2 linked regions of the Homo sapiens genome follow. The protein of the gene in region 1 interacts with the protein of each later gene in a biochemical or structural test. Each region holds a gene or a part of one and is shown in the gene's direction. Other genes may lie near its edges.

Region 1 (7,236 bases):
GGTCAGGAGTTTGAGACCAGCTTGGCCAACATGGTGAAACCCTGTCTCCACAAAAATTCAAAGATTAGTCAGGAGTGGTGGCACATGCCTGTAATCCCAGCCACTCAGGAGGCTGAGGCGGGAGAATTGCTTGAACCCAGAAGGCAGAAGTTGCAGTGAGCAGAGATCACACCACTCCAGCCTTGGCAGCAGAGTGAGGGAGACTCTGTCTCAAAAAAAAAAAAAAAAAAATTTTTGGCCTGGTAGTTACCTTACTATTTTTGTCAGGCGTTCAGTGCTTTTAGGAATCTGTTTTCTATATTTTATATAGAATTTCCAATTGTTGGTCTAAAAAACCCAGTCTGCCATAGTCTTAGAAAGGGAAGCGAACATCACCACTTTTCTCAGTACTTTAAATGAGAGGTTCTTTTAACCTAGGATTCATGCATGGAGTTCAAGGCATCTATATACCCCCCTGAAATTTCATGCAATGTTTTGTGTTTAACCAATTTTTTCTGGGAACAAAATCCATAGATGTTATCAGATTGTTAAAGGTGCCAGTGATAGAGACACCCTCAAATTTGATAACTATTGCTTTAGAGTTCTATCAGTACCTAGTAATTTTAATTAAAAAATGATTTTAGAATGATTTCAAACTCACAGAAAAGTTCCAAGTAGAGTGCAAGACAATCTCCACATTGTCGTCACCCAGATTCGCCAATGTTAACTCTGCCCTGACCCCACACACAATTAGTCTTTTTCTGAACCATTTGGGAACAAGCTTCAGACCTGAGTCCACGTTACCCCTAAATGCTATAGTGGGTATTTCCCCAAACAAGGATCTTCCAAATCAAGAAGTTAACATCGCTACAAGACCGTTCACAGAATCTATATAAGTTTCAATTTTTCAATTTCAACTGTCCCAAGAATATATTTTTTAAAAAATTGGACTGGGTGCAGTGGCTCATGCCTGTAATCCCAGCACTTTGGGAGGCCGAGGCGGGTGGATCACGAGGTTAGGAGTTCAAGACCAGCCTGGCCAAGATAGTGAAACCCCATCTCTACTAAAAATACAAAAATTAGCCAAGCATGGTGGTGGGCACCTGTAATCCCAGCTACTCAGGAGGCTGAGGCAGAGAATTGCTAGAACCCAGGAGGCAGAGGTTGCAATGAGCTGAGATCACGCCACTGCACTCCAGCCTGGGCAACACAGCAAGACTCTGTCTCAAAAAAAAAAAAAAGTGTGTAATATTTACTTCACAGGATTGCTATGGATGTTCATTGGACATAATAAGGAGTTTGGTTAGTTGTCATTGTTAGTTTGTTACAGTTACACTGTGTCCCCCTACACTTCCCCTCTTACTCATTGCTTATTGGGGTATGGAAAGCCAGCATTGCTATAGCATTCTCGCAGCACAGTACACACACACACACACACACACACACACACACACACGAGGCTGGAATCATGGGTATACTATGTCTTTAATAAAGGATCTTTCTTGGCCAGGCACAGTGGCTCACACCTGCAATCCCAGCACTTTGGGCGGCCATGGTGGGCGGATTGCTTGAGCCCAGGAGTTCAAGACCAGCCTGGGCAACATGGTGAAACCCCATCTATACCAAAAACAAACAAACAAAAAAACAAACCACAAAAATTAGCTGGGCGTCATATGCCTGTAGTCCCAGCTACTTGATACTCGGGAAGCTGAGGTGGGAGGATCACTTAAGCCAGGGTGGTGGACTGTTGCAATGAGCCAAGATCATGCCACTGCACTCCAGCCTCGGTAACAATGTTTCAAAAAAAAAAAAAGTATTTTTCTTGATTGGACAATGAGAATTCTAATTGTAATGGATATCTATTGTTTGGTCCTCCCCCTTCTTGTGGGAAACGGTCTTTCTCTACTTCCACAAGGTAGTGTACATTGTTCTTACCTGAAATGGCAGTTACAAGAACATGACAATGTCCATGTTCTTAAAGATCCTAGATCTTTGGCACAATCATTTGATTCACGGACAGGCAACTAGCTGGACCAATGAACTAGCCTTCCCTGAGAATTTTTAACTTGGGACTAGAGATCATCATCCTTACCTCGCCTGTCTGATGATGAGGCAGAAGATGAAATGTTGGGAGCTGTCAGTGGCCTTGTTTCCAGACATATGGAGGAAGCTGGTCTAACAGCATGAAGCCAATGTGCAGAGAGAGTTGCAGAGCTGAGCCATAGGGGCAGAGGCATTCTCGTTCTAGTAGTCCCAGCAGTCCCTCCCCTTCTTGGAGTCTGTCCATATCAACAGTACATTCCTCCCTTCTGCCTAACAGTTGAGTTCCTGTCAATGGCAACCAAGAGAGGTGTGACTGATTCATGTATTCAAAGGGCTGTTGTGAGAACTTGTGCCTGACTCACAGTGGGGACTCAACAAATGTTGGTTTATTACTCTTATATTTAACGCCTAAAGTCTGAATGCGAAAAGGTTAGGGCAATTCCAGAAGGAATTACTATGCAGAAGGGAAAACTGGTTGACAGGTTAACTTTCCTTTGAACATCACAAGGGAAGGCACCTAAATACAAAAGGAAGGCTTCCTCCACGCCCCCCATACACACACATTCCCTTCATCCTAACCTGGCTCTGCAGCTCCGAGGGTCACATACCTGCCCTTGGCACTACTAGTACTTCCTCCAGCAAGTCTCAGTCTTTCTTTCAGAATCCTTCGCCCTTATGCCATGTAACATCTGATCGGCCCGGTCTTTGCCCCTAGTATCAGCAGGCCAATACGTGCTCTGCTACAGGTCTTACAGGGAGGGTGAGCTCTTGGAGTTGGATCAGAAGGAGAGGGGCTGGGGAAAGATCGTCTTCAAATTGTTTCTTTGGCGGTAGTATATATAAACATATTTAGGCAGGGCATAGTGGCACATGTCTGTAACCCCAGCACTTTGGGAGGCCGAAGCGTGAGGATCGCTTAAAGACAGGAGTTGAAAATCATACTGGTCAATATAGTGAGATTGCAGTGAGCCATTATCGCGCCACTGCATTCCTGCCTGGGTGACAGTGCGAGACCCCTTCTCAAAAAAAAAAAAAAAAAAAGAAAGAAAAAAATCATAAGCAAACAACAACAAAAAAACAAATATAAAGAATGGCGGTCTGCTTAATTCTCCGTGCCAGCCCTTGAAATCAGTGGGTATTATTATGTAGAGTTTGAGTTCTTTCCTCCCTTGAGTAACATGAGTGACATCAGTAACATTAGTCAAGCGCTGCTCTTTTTGAAAGACTGTATTTCATTATTTTTATTCTAAACCTTACTCTGTTTGATGAAGATTGGGGGAAGAGCCCTCCCAATTCCACCGCTCACACATAACAGCGGTTGCTAGCATTCTTTATTTGTGCTAGGTCATCTGCATATTGTTTAAACATTTTTCGAGGCTGGAAAGACTGCTCCCACTCAGGCAATTCTGACGTGGCGGCCCTTCTAATTTATATTCTCTAAATAATTCTTCATTTAGAGAAAACAGTCAGGGATTACAGTGAGGGAGGGTGACGTGCTGACGGGGACAGAGCTTGGCTTTTGATCATTCTCCCCTTAGCTCTGCCCAGGCAAGCGTCCCTAACTCAGGGTATCGGAACCGATCTCCCTTAGAGGATTATGTTTCAACCACCAGCCTCAGCGGTTTACTCAAATGTCCTTCCAGCCAAATGCAGAAGTCTCCCTGGGAGTAATTTTGGTGAAGTCAGCTTTTGCCTTTTTCATCACAGGCAGGCTTTAGTAGTTCCTCAAAACGTGCACCACAACTGCCCGGCTGCCAAACAGAAATGCTGATGCCTGGGCCCACTCTAGCCATTTGGCCTCGGCATCACGGTGCGGGAGCGTGGGGCGCAGACTCGCATTGTCACAGGAACCTCCCGGCCTTCCGAAGAGCCCCGCGCCGGGGCCTTTGTCTCGCACGTCGGCTGGGGCGGGAGCTAGGTTCTCGCAGCCTCCTCCCACCGCTCTGCGCCTTCTTTGTCCCTCCAGAAGCCGCCATCAAAGCTCAGCTCCTGATTAGGTTTCGGCCCCGCTGGCCGGCGCAGTCTCGGCGACTACCCCAGGCGGCCTGGCGCACGCGAGGATTCGCCGCGCCCCAGATGCAGGTGCCTCCCCTCCTTAGCCGCCGACCGACAGTGCACGCCGCGGCCGCCGGAAGTGACAGCGCCTGTCGTTGGGGAGCTCCCGCCCCTTCCGCCTCGGCGCCCCGCCCAGGCCTCGCCCCTAGGTGTTCCCGCCCCTCCCCCTCCCGTGTCGCTCGCTTTCTGTCAGCCTCTCTCCCTCTCCCTCTCCCCTCTCCTTCCTCTCGCTTCCTCTCTCGCACCTGAGCGTACGCACCTGCCCGGGCCCGGCTCCCTCCTCCTCTCCCCTCCCTCTTTCCCCGCCCGGCCGCGGGAGCCTCGTGGCTGCGTCACCGCCGCCCCCCCAGACAAGATGGACACCGCGGAGGAAGGTAAGTCGGCGACGCGCGGCGCCCGAGCCCTTGCGTCGGCGCCCGGGTTCGTACCCCGGCCAGGTCCGCGGCGCTCGAGGTGGGCTGCTGGATCGCGGCGGGGCGGACGCCTGGGCCGTTTGTCCACCCGCTGGGCCTCTGGGCCGGGGAGCGGAAGGTGACCCTCTGCGCGCCCCCCGCCGTTTCCCGCCCGCGCCGCCGAGGGGGGCGGGGACCCTGCCGGGCAGGGGCCGGGGCCGGGGTCGGGGCCTCGGGGCTACTGCAGGCCGGCGTGGCCTCCCTTGTCCCCGCCGTCGCGCGCTGGCCCAGAAAAGGGGGCCTCTGTCGCTGCCGTCCGGGGGCGTTTTCCGCACCCTTCCCCCACTGGGTTTTGTCTTTCTTTACGTCCTTCTGCCTATTGCTCGCCAGGCCCTACCCCCTCGCGACAGAACTTCTTTGTTGACTTTGAAACTTCGCGAAAAATACCCCGCCAGATGACGGCCGAGTGGAGTGAGCTGACCCCTGTTGAAAAGCCTGGTCCTCGGCTTGCCTGCCGCTCGAGAATCTGTTTACTAAACGGGGAGGCTCTTTTGTTGCGATCCATTTGGTTTTAAATCCTTGACACCTATAAGCAGGGTTCTGTTTGTTTTGTTTTGCGATTGCTTGTGTTTTGGATACGGTTACATTGAACAAACTGACCCTTGTAAAATGAATACTTAAGATATAAACGTCCACACCTTATGTCTCTTCAAACGCATTTTCTTACCCACTGAAGGTAGTAGATTATTTTTAACCAGCTGTGTTTTTAAATGAGTGGTGAGTTTATAGAGGAAATTACTAAATTTTGCTTTTTTTGATGTTCCGGTTATCGTGCAAATGCTTTTCTACTTTAGGTATATTTATGGGGGTATGAGCGTCTTTCAACCTTATGGGTTGCGATTTTGGCGATTTTAAACGAAAATGAATTATCAAACGCCGTCATGGAGTGCAATAATGAGTGAAAAAAGTTTGATATTATCTATGTAATGAGTTGATAACGACTTATTTTTTTTTAAAGAAGTCTTGCCTTTAATAAATACCTCAACTATAACATGTGGCACTTGATGTACATTCGCGTTCCATCTTCGTAAAAAGCCTGTGGAATAGGTAGGTATTATCTTTTATAGATGTGGAAATGTAGGCTTCGTTATTTTAATAGCTTGTCGAAGCTTTACACAGGTAGTAAGAGGCAGATTTGAACCTAGGCATTCTGATTGCAAGTAATTTCCCTTTCATTATGCCACAGTGTGTTTATTATATACACTGAGTGTAGCTAATCGCCACTGGAGACGCCTTTGGAAAAAATAGTAAAGCGAAACTGCTGAAGGTTGCGAACTATTTCTTTTTGACAGGTGGTCCTTGCGTGTAAATTTCCATCTACATAGGTTTCACATCCTTTTAGATTCAGGTTTTAATGAGTAAATCTAGTAAGGCATGTATTTATCACAGGATAGGTACGGACGTATTACATTCAATTCTCATTCTTTTGGCCTGGGCATTGCTACTTGCATACTTTTATGGTGTGACAGTAATCTGTGGTAATTCAGGAATTGCGCTCGAAGCACGTATGGAATCATGAAATATTTTCACTGTACTTCTAGTGCTTAAATATATTTTTTCTCTTGTAAAATTATAATCAGGATAAGGTATACATAACATTTATTTATTGAACACTGTTGCCTGTTAAAATAACATGTGCTGAAGACTCAACGTGTAGTATGTGCTTTACTAAACACTTTATATACATTTCATTTAATTCTCTCACATCGTTAGGTAGTCGGCATTTTCATTTTACAGATGAGGAAACTGATGGTTAGTATGATTAAGTAACTTGTCCAGGATAATACAGGTAGTAAATGGCAGAGGCAAGATTCAGACTCATGTCTGTCAGAGTCGCACTTAAATTAGATTATTTATTTATGAGTGTATACTACAAGTCCAATGTTGAAATTTATTTTTGTCACTCCCTCTATAGGATGAATCATTTATATAATTTGGTGGAAACTTTATTTTGCTTTATTTTGTTTTATGAAATTATTAGTCATGAAATGCAAGTGAATTTTAGTGCCGTATTCTCATGCCTGCTTTTGCAAAATTCCAGTTTGGAAGTCTTCTGACATTTTTACAATTAAATTTAAGTTGAAATAACACTTAAAGGAAAAGGGAGGGTTATAGAGGATTAAAAATGATATAGCAAAGATGCCAAAAAACTAATAAAAAATGTTCTATTTGTGAAATCAGTTATTATAGGTTATTTCTTTAAAAAATGCGACTTAGGTTTTTTAAATCTGCTTAGAAATTTTTTGGTAGGAGATATTCAAAGTATGGCCAAACATAAAACTAAATTAAAAAAAAATCAGTATCACCTACTTTTGAAAACACTTATACTGTTGTGGTTCTGTTTTTTATTTATTTTATTTTATTTTATTTTATTTTATTTTATTTTATTTTATTTTATTTTATTTTATTTTATTTTCCGAGATGGAGTCTTGCCCTGTTGCCCAGGCTGAAGTGCAGTGGCATGATCTCTGCTCACTGCAACCTCCACCTCCCAGGTTCAAGCGATTCTCCTGTCTCAGCCTCCTGAGTAGCTGGGATTACAGGAGCGCGCCACCTCCCTCTGCTAATTTTTGTGTTTTTAGTAGAGATGGGGTTTCGCCATGTTGGCCAGACTGGTCTCAAACTCCTGACCTCAGGTGATCTGTCCGCCTCAACCTCCCAAAATGCTGGGATTACGAGCGTGAGCTACCGTTCCTGGCCGGTTCTC
Region 2 (7,026 bases), on another chromosome or scaffold:
TGGTAGTATGTTTTAATTTCTTGCTTTTAATTTTTTTGCCTACCTCTTGTAGGCTTTTGATTTGAAATTACCAGGAAGCTTGCAGGTCATATCTTATAACCGATTATTTTAAACTGATGACAACTGATTCCACAAACGAGCAGAGAAAACTAATAAAAACTCTACACTTTATCCTCCTTGCTTTTTAACTTTTGTGAGTTTTGTACCTTCATGTAATTGCTTACTGCTCGTTAAGGTCCTTTTCTTTTAGATTGAAGAACTCACTTCGGCATTTCTTGTGGGAAAGTTTGGTGTTGATGAAGTCCCTCGGCTTTTGTTTGTCTGGGAAAGTCTTTATTTCTCCTTCATGTTTGAAGGATATTTTCACTGGATATACTATTGTAGCATAAAAGTTCTTTTCCTTCAGCACTTTCAGTGTGTCTTGCCCCTCTCTCCTGGCCTGTAAGATTTCCACTAAGTCTACTGCCAGACATACTAGAGCTCCATTGTTTGTTGTTTCCTTTCTCTTGTTGCTCTTAGGATCTTTTCTATATCCTTGACCTTTGGGAGTTTGATTATTAAATGGCTTGAACTAGTCTTGTTTGGATTAAATCAATCACCAATCCTTGCTTGGTGTTCTGTAGCTTTCTTGTGCTTGAATATTGATATCTTTCTCTAGATTTGGGAAGTTCTCTGTTATTTTTTCTTCAAATAAACTTTCTACCCTCATCTTTCTATCTCCTTTTAAAGGCCAAGAACTTAGATTTGCTCTTTTGAAATTATTTTCTAGATCTTGTAGGTGTGCCTCATTCTTGATTATTCTTTTTTCTTTTGTCTCCTCTGTGTATTTTCAAATAGCCTGTTTTCAAGCTTACTAATTCTTTCTTCTGCTTGATCAGTTCTACTGTTGAGATTCTGCCATGTTCTTCAGTAAGTTAATTGAATTTTTTATCTCCAGAATTTCTGCTTGATTCTTTTAAATTATTTCAGTTGTTTTGTTAAACTTACCTGATAGCATTCTGAGTTCCTTCTCTGTGTTGTCTTGAATTTTGTTGAGCTTCTCCAAAACAGCTATTTTGAATTCTCTGAAAGCTCACATCTCTGTTACTCTGGGATTGGTCACTGGTGCCTTATTTATTATTGTTAATTTAGTGAGTTCATGTTTTCCTGGATGGTTTTGATGACTGTGGATGTTCACCAATGTCTGGGCATTGATGAGTTAGGTATTTATTGTGGTCTTCGGAGTCTGGGCTTGTTTGTACCCATCTTTCTTGGGAACGCTTTTGAAGTATTCAAAGGGAAGTGAGTGTTGTGATCTAAGTCTTTGGTCATAGCAGCCGTATCTGTATTAAGGGGCACCCCAAGTCCAGTAACATTGTGACCCTTGCAGACTTGTAGAGGTACCGCCTTGGTGGTCTTGGGTAATATCTGGGAGAATTCCCTGGATTATCAGGAAAAGAACTCTTGGTTCTCTTCCCTTACTTTCCCCCAAACAGAGTCTGTCCTTCTTTGTTGAGCTGCCTGGAGCTGTGGGGGACGGGTGACACAGGTATGCCTGTGGCCACCATGACTGGCGTGTGCTGAGTCAGACCTGAAGCCAGTACAGCACTGGGTATTGGTGAAAGGCTTGTGGTGATGACTGCCTGGTCACCGCTGATGTTCCCTCAAGACTCAAGAGCTCTACAGTCAGCACAAATCCAGCCAGGCTTGTGCCCTTCCCTTGAGGGCAGTGAGCTCCTGGGGGCCCAGGACTGGTCCAGAAATGCTGTCTGGGAGCCAGGGCCTGGAGTTGGGAAACTTAGGAATCTACTTGGTGCTCTATTCTACTGCAGCTGAGCTGGCACCCAAACCTTAAGACATATTCCTTCCCACTCTTCCCTCTCCTTTCCTCAAGCAGAAGGAGCCTCTCCCCATGGCCACCAGTGCTCCAGGCCTGCAGTGAGTACTGCCTGGCTGCTGCTGGTGTTCACTCAAGGCTCCAGGGCTCTTCAGTCAGCTGGTGGTGAATGCTGCCAGACCTGGGTCTCTCCCTTCAGTACAATGGGCTCCCCTCTCACCCAGGACGGATCCAAAAATGCTGTCCAGGTGCCAAGACCTAGAATCAGGGACCCCAGGAACCCACTTGGTGCTCTGTCTCACTGGCCAAGCTGGTACCCAGGCTGACTTTTGGTTCTTATGAAGGTGCTTTCCTGTGTGGGAGGGGGATGATCGCCAGAGGACTTGCTTTGTATACCTGGATACCTGTAGATTCTTTTTATTTTCTTCATATTTTAAGGAGGCCTTACAAATGTATTGACATTATTGGACTTGTCATTAGGTTTGTATATGAGCTTCATGAGGGCAGAGGCCACACTCTTGTTATTACCATATCCCCAGTGCCTGGCCACCTATTAGGTACCCAACATTGATTCAAACAACTCTTGAATTTTTGCCTCAGCAAATTTTAATCATGATTTGTTTTCATGTATTTTCACATTTTTCTTATTATTAGCTTACATCAGTAATCTTTATACATTGAGTTATCCTTTTTGTTTTGTCTCAAGGGATGCTCTAAAATAAAATCTTCATTACCTCTCTTCATAGGTGTTCTTCTTTTGGGAGACGCATATAATATGAGGCATCCACTTACTGGTGGAGGAATGACTGTTGCTTTTAAAGATATAAAACTATGGAGAAAACTGCTAAAGGGTATCCCTGACCTTTATGATGATGCAGCTATTTTCGAGGTAAGATCAATTATTTTGACAAAAATGTCTCAAAATGGATTTATTTCTGGGGGTTAAGAGCAGTGGGGCTCTGATGGGGAGATCTGTACTAAGGAACCTGATGCTTTATAATAGCTCTTAGGCATCTTGCTTAGGCTTAAAGAACCTGACTTGCAACCTGTGAATCTTAGAGAATTTCTAAATTTGAATATTATGTAACACTTGATTGCTATGGGCCACTTAGCTCATAGTGGTTGTAAATTTAGCTTCAGTGTCATATAACCCATTGCTCTGAAGGTGATTTTTTATTTTTTTTGTAAATGATAAACATAAGGCAATATTACTTGCAGATAGTCCTTAGAAGGATAAGTATCAGTTTGAGGGGATTATAAACATCAGTTTGTGCTTTTTTATCCTTACCATATAATAAATGAGCTATTTCTTTTTTAGGCCAAAAAATCATTTTACTGGGCAAGAAAAACATCTCATTCCTTTGTCGTGAATATCCTTGCTCAGGCTCTTTATGAATTATTTTCTGCCACAGATGGTAAGTGTAGACACTTTTTAGTGAATATTACTCAATTGCAGATTTTTAGCGTAGGAAAGGAATAAACAAGTTAGTGATTTGTCCAGAAATAAAAATGTTACCTGAGTTTGCTAACTCCCAAGTTGGTAGTTTTTTAAAATTCCATTTTGAGCAATAGTTGTAGTTTTAGTTTTAGTTTGGAAGGTAGTGGAATTTCCTTAGACAACATTAATAGCAATGCCTCAGTAACATATTCATTATTTTGAATTCCTCTGGTGCAGACTAGATCATGCTTGTCCTCACACACACAAGACTGTGATGGAAGGTGTTTTTGGCCATGTATTAAAAGGCAATGTAGTCTTTTTCTTCCTAACACTAGTTTCAATTTCTTTTTAAAGTAGTATTTTATAAAATGAATACAAGCTGTTAATCTTGTCCCTGTTGAAAAGCACAAGTAACAATGCATTCACCCTTTACTTATTTGGATTATTTTGGTGCTTTTGTTACTGTTTCCATATTATACAGAGGTCACGGTCAATGTATATATTAGAGAAAACACAACTTAGCAGAAGCAGTGTTAGAAATGGAGGAAAAGAGGCCAGGCGAAATGATTCATGCCTGTAATCCCAGCACTTCAGGAGGCCAAGGCAGGAGGATCGCTTAAAGCCAGGAGTTTCACACCAACCTGGACAATAAAGCAAGACCCCATCTCTACAAAAAATTAAAAGATCAGCAAGGCATGGTGGCGTGTGCCTGTAGTCCCAGCTATTTGGGACTATATAGCTCACTACAGTGAGCTATATATAGTGAGCTATATGAAGTGCCACTGCACTCAGCCTGGGCAACAGAGTGAGACTTCATCTTCTAAAACAAACAAACAAAAAATTAAAAGAAATGGAGGAGAAAAGGCAACTGTGCCACCTCCTCACCACAGCAGTGTACACATCAGTTTAATAGTAGGTTAATGAAACTAGGCTTTTCAGTTTTCAAGAATAAATACTGACTCATATGCCACTACTCTAGTATATTTGCAACATAGCTATTTGTATGATCTGGCTGAGGCCCTAGTGATAAGTGCTGTGGTTATAATTACAAAAGATGATACAATAAAAATGCTTTCTGTAGCCTCTATAACCATTAACTCTTCCTAAGGAAAAAAAACAAAACAAAAACCCCACCAATCTCACTGGTTATGATTTTTCCAAACAAATTTCTCTTGCTAAATTGGCATAGAAGTTAAAATGGCTGGTTGGGCAAATGAAAGTAACTAAGTTTAGAGTTTTGGGCAAATAAAAAGAACTAAGTTTAGAGTTTTGGGCAAATAAAAAGAACTAAATTTAAGAGTTTTTCTGAGCTCTTCTTTCTAAGCTTTTCTAACTTCTTGAGTTCTTAACATTATGAATTTAAATCTACCAACAAAACAACATTTTTTAAAAGTTACAAGATTGGAGGAGGAAAGACCTTTATTGGAGCAAAAGTTTACCTGTTGCATCCTTTACTTTTTAAAATCTGTTGTAAAGAAAAATCTGGGCATACCTGAACAGAACATTGATTCTAAATGGTTAAAAAGGTTATCAATTGATTACACTACATTGTGAGGGTTTTATGAGTTACTTTGAAAGGTATTAAAAACTTTATAGATATAAGGAATTATTATTTATCGCTACTCACAGCTCTCTTCACTTGATAATTTACTGCTTAGTTAGAGATACTGGTTGGACATCTTAGAGACTGGGAATTTGGTTTCTAGAATTGTGTTAAAAAGAGCTTCCAAAGTATTTTGCATCACTTAATGAATTAACAGCAAAATCAAGGAAGTACCTTTTAAACAACTCTTCCAAGACCTAAATATTAGTAGTTATTTACTAACAGAAAAAAGTTTATTCATATTTATATTACTCTCCATAATGCTGATTATGGAATTCAGAAGAAATCCTGGTTGTTGAAATTCTAGGACTAGATATTTAAAAATTATCTGCAAGATGTAGCGTTTGTTATTTCTCATTTTTTCTGATATATCATTAGCATCCTACATAAGTGTGTACACATATTTGATTATTTTACAATTTTATTTTAGATTCCCTGCATCAACTAAGAAAAGCCTGTTTTCTTTATTTCAAACTTGGTGGCGAATGTGTTGCGGGTCCTGTTGGGCTGCTTTCTGTGTAAGTTGTGATGGCACAGAGGATACAAACCTGCCAGATTTTCTTAGGACTGTTCAGTTGATGAATTACTGCAAATCTTTCTTCCTTACACATTTTGATATTTTATTATCTGTTAGTATCCCAATGAGAAGGTGGCCCAAAGAAATGAAGAAACGCAATATTTAGTACTGTTTTCTTTCTAGGGAACAGCAGTTAAAGGTGGTGGTAGAGGAAGCTATAACCCTTGATTAAAATAGAAGCTTGTTTTTTGCCTATGGATTTATCCATATGTTCTGGTCTGTGGGAGCCAGGAATAATTGAGAAATTTTAATTTAAGAATTAGTTTCATTGAAGTACGGGGACTTATACAACCCAGTATTAGTTTTGAGCGTACAGACATATGTGGAACTATTCTTGGAAAGTCTACAAAGTGAAATCTATCGAGTTATTTCTCATTTGCAAAGTGATCCTTTGAGTCATTTCTCATAATCTATAATCTGAATGTTAATACTGATATTTTTAAAAGCCCTACATCCCAACAGACCAGGCCATCTAGATATTTCAGCGTGGTGTCTCAGGATGAGTAAACAAACAGCTAAAAATATATGACTTATGTAAACTAGAGTTACAGGAGTTACTAGCTTTTCTGAAAGGGATATATTCTAAGTATTTTTTCTTAAAAAAAAAAAAAGGGGGGTGGGGGGTTTGCTCCTGCCATCAAACTTAACATGCAGACATATTTGTGACGTCCTCTAAAATGTAGAATGTTTCATACAGAATTATGATGCTTGGGTAAAAAAAAGTAGGATGTTTGTTGAGCTTCGTAGATTATATGTAATTGGAACCTTTGGAGTAAATTTTAGTTTCTGAGTCTTACCAATATGTATTTTTTTCTATTACAGATTGTCTCCTAACCCTCTAGTTTTAATTGGACACTTCTTTGCTGTTGCAATCTATGCCGTGTATTTTTGCTTTAAGTCAGAACCTTGGATTACAAAACCTCGAGCCCTTCTCAGTAGTGGTGCTGTATTGTACAAAGCGTGTTCTGTAATATTTCCTCTAATTTACTCAGAAATGAAGTATATGGTTCATTAAGCTTAAAGGGGAACCATTTGTGAATGAATATTTGGAACTTACCAAGTCCTAAGAGACTTTTGGAAGAGGATATATATAGCATAGTACCATACCACTTATAAAGTGGAAACTCTTGGACCAAGATTTGGATTAATTTGTTTTTGAAGTTTTTTGTATATAAATATGTAAATACATGCTTTAATTTGCAATTTAAAATGAAGGGGTTAAATAAGTTAGACATTTAAAAGAAATGATTGTTACCATAAATTAGTGCTAATGCTGAGGAGAACTACAGTTTTTCTTTTGAATTTAGTATTTGAGATGAGTTGTTGGGACATGCAAATAAAATGAAGAATGAACTTTCGTGTCTTTTTGTTTCTTGTTGTGGGCTCGTTTACATAGCTTCATGATAATGAAAAAGAAAACCAAAGTGGGATGAAAAGTGCAGAGGGAAACCTGTTCTATTAAATAACTGGGGAAGTTGCCTTAATGTCTTGACCTTGATTTCCTCATCTATCCAGTGAAGCAATTTGATAAGGTTATTTTCTTTAAAAAAAATTACTTATTTATTTATTTATTTTATTTTGGGGCTGTGACT

Evidence for each region. The genes of interacting proteins can lie anywhere in the genome.
Region 2: of the proteins of MARCHF6 (region 1) and SQLE, one has a biochemical effect on the other in vitro, tested with the Homo sapiens proteins (one study listed by BioGRID).

What each region holds. Positions count from the first base shown.
Region 1 is NC_000005.10:10,349,467-10,356,702, forward strand, and holds the start of MARCHF6 (E3 ubiquitin-protein ligase MARCHF6), read left to right. Parts: upstream 1-4,228; 5' UTR 4,229-4,432; coding exon 4,433-4,451; exon of another isoform or gene 4,452-5,576; intron 5,577-7,236. UniProt on the Homo sapiens protein: Endoplasmic reticulum membrane-associated E3 ubiquitin ligase that plays a critical role in mitigating endoplasmic reticulum stress, the regulation of cholesterol and lipid homeostasis, and ferroptosis.
Region 2 is NC_000008.11:125,015,497-125,022,522, forward strand, and holds the end of SQLE (squalene monooxygenase), read left to right. Parts: intron 1-2,562; coding exon 2,563-2,705; intron 2,706-3,134; coding exon 3,135-3,231; intron 3,232-5,287; coding exon 5,288-5,375; intron 5,376-6,256; coding exon 6,257-6,449; 3' UTR 6,450-6,787; downstream 6,788-7,026. UniProt on the Homo sapiens protein: Catalyzes the stereospecific oxidation of squalene to (S)-2,3-epoxysqualene, and is considered to be a rate-limiting enzyme in steroid biosynthesis.